Regions from separate parts of the Homo sapiens genome. Here region 2 is linked to region 1. The links come from fine-mapping of genetic effects on gene expression. Tissue or cell type: macrophages. Region 1 holds a variant in brackets; the other region holds the start of a gene. All regions are shown on one strand. Distances are between the middles of the regions. Region 1 overlaps GCFC2 (GC-rich sequence DNA-binding factor 2). Region 2 holds the start of LINC01291 (long intergenic non-protein coding RNA 1291).

The links. PIP is the estimated chance that this variant, and not a neighbour inherited with it, causes the effect.
Region 2: it holds the start of LINC01291, and the variant in region 1 is the best candidate, but not a certain one, in a credible set for the expression of LINC01291 in macrophages (Nedelec 2016, PIP 0.68).

Annotation. Positions count from the first base shown.
Region 1 is chr2:75,705,506-75,708,430 of GRCh38, reverse strand. GCFC2 (GC-rich sequence DNA-binding factor 2) reads left to right here. Exons shown (of 17, transcript NM_003203.5): 2 at 1,780-1,908. Among named protein-coding and RNA genes, the nearest start is that of GCFC2, 3.9 kb to the left of the region's middle. The variant A/G (reference allele first, on the strand shown) is at 1,396.
Region 2 is chr2:74,907,614-74,910,538 of GRCh38, reverse strand. It overlaps LINC01291 (long intergenic non-protein coding RNA 1291), which reads right to left and starts at 1,578. Exons shown (of 5, transcript NR_189601.1): 1 at 1,366-1,578.

The sequences.
Region 1 (2,925 bases):
GTACTTTGGATCTTTTACTCATGAACGATTGGTAACATCTTGCATTATTTGGAAGGTATTCATTAGCTGAGTTTGCAGATCTTGCAAATGTTGGAGCATTTTATTGTACAATACCAAAAAAATCATAGTATTACCACTGATTAATCAGTCTGTAAGTACTGGAAAGCTGTTAGGTTCACAGTAGAGAATATAAGTTTTCCAAAATCTCAATTTTCACTTGAAATCTCTCATTTTATTGATAGGCACAACCGGGCTCATGTTTTGAGAAAATGTTTGTCAGATAGCCATGTCTGAATAATCGGTTTGTTAGTCATTCTTTCAAGTAAAATGGTGATGCTTCTTAAAAACAACGTCTAGTTCAGCTTGCAACTCAGTCACACAAATGCTTTTCCTTAAGGCAGCCATTGCATTTCAAGATGCAGCAAAAGTGCCTTATGAATACTTTGATTTTGTCACAAAGAATATTAAACATGTGTACTCAAGGGTCAAAATTTAATAAAATAACAATTTTTTAATTAGTTCATGAAGAGCAACTGGCTTTTTTCTGCCATGTGAGGTAAGGAAAAATACCATAACTGCTACTACAAATTGATTCATTCATGCCAAGAGCCTAGCAGTTTTACCCATCACTGCCTTTACTTCATTATATAAATATCAACATGGTAAAAAGAACAAATAACATGTTATTATTGTGATGAAAGTAGTTTTAATTTCACAGACTCTCTGAAAGAGTCTCAAGGACCTCCAGGGATTGATAAACCATGCTTTAAGACCCACTGCTTTGGTGTTAATCCACTTTGGAAACAGGTATGGGTTGTCATAAATGACAATATCTAAGAAAGATGTGAGCTGCAGCTATATTTTTTTTAGTGTTTTAAATTTTGATTTTACTCCAGCCTTTTTTGAACTGTATGTAGGTCTTCTAACTAAGGTAGAAAATTAAAATTAATGAGTAGTATGTAATCTTATGTTTTAAGGTTACTCATAAAGATTGCAAATTTATTGTGGATTAAGAAATCCTTTCTTGTCAATAATGTCAAGAATTCCTTTATTTTGTTCATTCAATTTTCACAACACCCCTGTGGGTTTTATCTTGGTGTTATCTTTGTTTAACAGATTAATTGAATTTAACAGACTATTTACCTTCCCAAATCATGCATTGAAAAGATGGACCCATGGTTTAATATTGACCAAAGTGCTCGTTACAATATTTCTCGCCACCAGCCGTTGAAATATGGCATACTATAAAGAGAGCCTAAGTTCTGAAGTTGCCTGGGATTAGGTTGACAGCCCTGCTTCTCCACTGCCCGAGTTGGTGTTCTTTATCCTCTCAATCCTTAGTGAACTCATCAGAAATTGCATTTACTTTATAGAATTACAGGTATTAAATAAGTC[A/G]TGTAAAACAGGTTTCAGTGTGCCTAGTACATAGTATACATTAAATATTTTTCTTTTCTACTTATTCACAATCATTACTATTCTAAATATTACTTCATTTTTTGTCGCTTTTTTTTTCTCTAATGCCTCCTTCCCTTTTCTCATTGCATACTTTTGGAAATATATTATTAGATGCCTAGATAATACAAATAGGGTCTTTGTACACTTAGTAGATCATTCAGTTGCTTAAGAAAGAAAGTTGGAGGAAGATCAATATGTCTACTTTAATATATGGACTAGGATTAAAACACCGTATTATACATATGCCATGTGTTGTTCAGAATTTCAATTAATAATTCCATTATTTTGACTCTTTTTTGTTGTATTTTTAAAATGTCCTGTTAGAATCCAGAACCCTTGATGTGTCCACAGATGAAGAGGATAAAATACATCACTCCTCAGAAAGTAAGGATGATCAGGGTTTGTCTTCTGACAGTTCTAGCTCTCTTGGAGAAAAAGAACTTTCATCAACAGGTTAGTAATTTGTATGATTTTGGTTAAGAATTTTATTTTTAATATAGTGTTTTTGATATAGTTATTAATGACATAACAAACTCTAGTGACATGGGGCAAGTAGGTCATTAATGATGATTGTCAGAGTGCCAAAATTGCTCATTTTTATTACATTTTAACATGCACAGGTCAGACAGCTTATAAGTAGCAGGGCTAGGATTCAAACCCAGTTTGTTCTGGAGCCTGTATTCTTCTTAATCACTGTGCTATACTGGGTGATTGACATTGATACTTGAAGGATGGTAAGAATTTGTCAGGGAGGATGTTTCAGGTATAGGATGTAGCATATCTGAAACTCTAGGGAAGGTATGTAATATGTGCAGGAAGCTAAAAATAGCTCTGGCTGAAAGTATTTGGTTGCGAGTTTAAGGAAAAGAAAACAGGAAGGACAAGTTGGAGTCAGATTATACAGGGCTTAGGGAACCACTGAAAATTTTATACAGATGACATGAATGTTTTTGTGTCTTAGAAAGATCAGTCTAGTTCAGGGGTTGGCAAATCTGGCCCACCACCTGTTTTTGTAAACAAAGTTTTATTAAAACACAATCACAGTCTTTCAGTTACTTAATATTTGTGGGTGCTTTTGCACTGCAGCAGCAGAGTTGAGAAGTTGCCACAAAGACCCTATGGCCCGCAAAGTGAAAAATATTTATCTGGCGTCTTACAGAGGTTTATAACTTGTTTTGTGCCGTGGACTCCTTTTTCAGTCTAGTGAAGCCTAAGATCCCTTCTGAGAAAATAAAGTAAAATACATAGCTTTGTAGAGGAAACAAATTATATTGAAATAAAATTATTAAAATATATTTTATGACGCTTGTAATATAGTAATAAGTGCTTCTGTGCTTCTTTTTTTTTTTTTTTTTTTTTGAGATGGAGTCTCACTCTGTCGCCCAGGCTGGAGTGCAGTGGCGCAATCTGGGTTCACTGCAAGCTCCGCCTCCCAGGTTCACGTCATTCTCCTGCCTTAGCCTCTTGAGT
Region 2 (2,925 bases), 800 kb after region 1:
CCCTCCCTTCTAATTCTATGCTCAACACTAGAGAAAACAGTTTTCAAGCACATATATAAGGGTTATGACATTGTCCGTATACCAGGCCTCAAAGGATTACTTGATAAATTCCAAAGAATCAATGTCATACAGATCATGTTCTCAGACCAGAATGCCAAAAAATTAGAAATGAATAACAGAGGGATAGTTTATACAAACATATTACTGGAAACTAAATAATATATTTTAAAAGGTAAAAAAAAAAAAAAAGTATAGCAAATTGCTAGTTGCTTAGAGTATCAATGAAATGGCAATGTATCAAAATGTGTAGGACTTACAGCAGTAGATAGAAATTATAACTTCAAACACAAGTAAAACTGTAAATTCAAGAAGTTGGAATAAGATCAACAGAGCCAAGAAACAAGAAGGAAAAATAAGTAAAGAAAGGCAAAAATCAATAAAATGGAGAAGGAAAAAACAGAAAGAAATGACCAAATCAAAAGCTAATTATTTGAAAAGATTAGTGAAATAAAATTCTGGCAAGACTGATCGAGAAAAAGAGTGAGAAAGGCCAGGAACGGTGGCTCACGCCTGTAATCCCAGCACTTTGGGAGGCTGAGGCGGGCGGATCACAAGGTCGGGAGTTCAAGACCAGCCTGGCCAATATGGTGAAACCCCATTTCTACTAAAAATACAAAAATTAGCTGGGCGTGGTTGTGCGCACCTGTAATCCCAGCTACTCAGGAGGCTGAGCCAGGAGAATCGCTTGAACCTGGGAGGCGGAGGTTGCAGTGAGCCGAGATCACACTATTGCACTCCAGCCTGGAGCAATAGAGTGAGACTCCGTCTCAAAAAAAAAAAAAAGAAAAAAGAAAAAAAGAAAAAGAGTGAGAAAATGAAATTGCAATAGATAAAACCTACAATGAAAAAGGGGGAAAAACAATTACAGGCACAACAAAGATGAAAGAATAATGTAATTGCAGTAACCCTTCTGAAGTAACGTTGTCAAAATATCAAACCTAAACCTGATCATGGATTTGAGATGGGATAGTTCCTTTGACCCCCTTCATGGGCAGGAACTGGAGTGGCTCGTTTCACTCAGCCCGTCACTGGCCACTCCTCGCATGGGGGAGCGTAAGAGCAAGCGGGTGCAGGAACCCAAGCAAACGAACCCCAGAACCCGCCGGTCGCTCCTCTCTGGAGGGAGCAGGCTCTATGCATGCTACACAGCAGTGTCCATGCATGTTTCAACCAGCGCTCTTTCAGCTCTGCCGTCCAGGTACGGCCAAGTGCCAACCAGCTCAGTGGAGAGTCAGGGTGGTAGCCCCTGCCCTCTTGGCACCTGAGTTCTCGTTTGGCGTCCAGGAAGAATCAGCTCACACGAACCGTTTGAAAGGTGATGAATGCGGAAGACTTCATTGAGCGGTGGGTGGCTCTCAGCGGAAAGGGAGGCTGGAAAGCAGATGGGAACGTGAGCTTTCTCTGAAGCCCGGCAGTCTCCGGCCAGGTCCCTCTCTGAAGCCGCACCGTCTGAAGTTAGCCGCATCTATCCATTGTCTCTGACACTCAGCTGCGTGTATCCTCGCCGCTCAGCCGCTTCTATTGCGCTGCCAGCTGAAGTCTTTTATGGGCACAGGATAGGGGCGGGGCAGGCCAAAAAGGCAACATTTGCTTGGAAAACCAGGATCACCTGTTTTCACTTAGGGCGGTGGTTCCTGGCTTAGGGGTGGGGTTTAGCTGGGAGCCCAGCCCTTCTGTATCAGATTGAGATTTAACTACCAATTTACAGGAATACAGAGGACAAGGGAACGTGTCAAACTAGAGATGCAATCATAGGAAACTCTGGGAGGAAAACAGAAAGCTGAAAAGAAACAGAGGTTATGAGAAATTAAAAGGCAGGTCTGCCAAGTGCAATGTGTAAACTTTGGATTCTGATTCAAATGACAAAGTTATCTCCCCCGCCAAAAAAAAAAAAAAAGACATTTGTGAGAAAATTGGAAGTTTAAACACTAATGGGGAGTTTCTTGATGTTGATAAATTATTATCTGGGGAGGAGGTAATGACACTGTGAACAGGTTGAAAAAGAGTCTTTGTCTTTTGAAGATTTTTACCGGAGCATTTGCAGGTGTCATTATACAATGTCAGAGATTTACTTCAAAGAATTGTGAGGGGATGTGGGCGGGGCTCTAGATGAAACAACATTGGCCATGAATTGATAACTGCTGAAGCACCAGAGGTTTATCAATCCACTTTTGAATGTATTCGAAATTTTCTAAAAAAAAAAAAAGTTTTTAGAGTATTATGAACAACTGTATCCAAATAATGTGAAACTTTAGATATTATAGACAACTTTGTGGGGAAATACTAAATGCCAAGATATAGTATACTTGAATAGACTAACAAGCATTAAAGAAATTGAAACGCTAATCATAGCTCCTCTCCCTAAAGCCCAGATAGCTTTACAAATATGCTCTACCTGTCTTCAAGAGACAGATTTTTTTATCTCACAAATTGTTGCAGCAAGTGAAAAAGAGAAAATTGTCCAGCCTTTTTTATGAAGCTAATGTAATCTTGATTCAAAACTAGATTGGGCCAATACAAAAAAAAAAAAAAATTACATGCTCATTGTATTTCTGAATAAGTGATATGGTTTGGCTGTGTCCCCACCCAAATCTCAAATTGAATTGTATCTCCCAGAATTCCCACGTGTTGTGGGAGGGACCCAGGGAGAGGCAATTAAATCATGGGGGTTGGTCTTTCCTGTGCTATTCTCATGATAGTGAATAAGTCTCACGAGATCTGATGGGCTTATCAGAGGTTTCTGCTTTTGCTTCTTCCTCTTTTTTTTTTTTTTTTTTTTTAGACAGAGTCTTGCTTTGTCACCCAGGCTGGAGTGCAGTCGCTCAATCTTGGCTCACTGCAACCTCCGCCTCCCAGGTTCAAGCA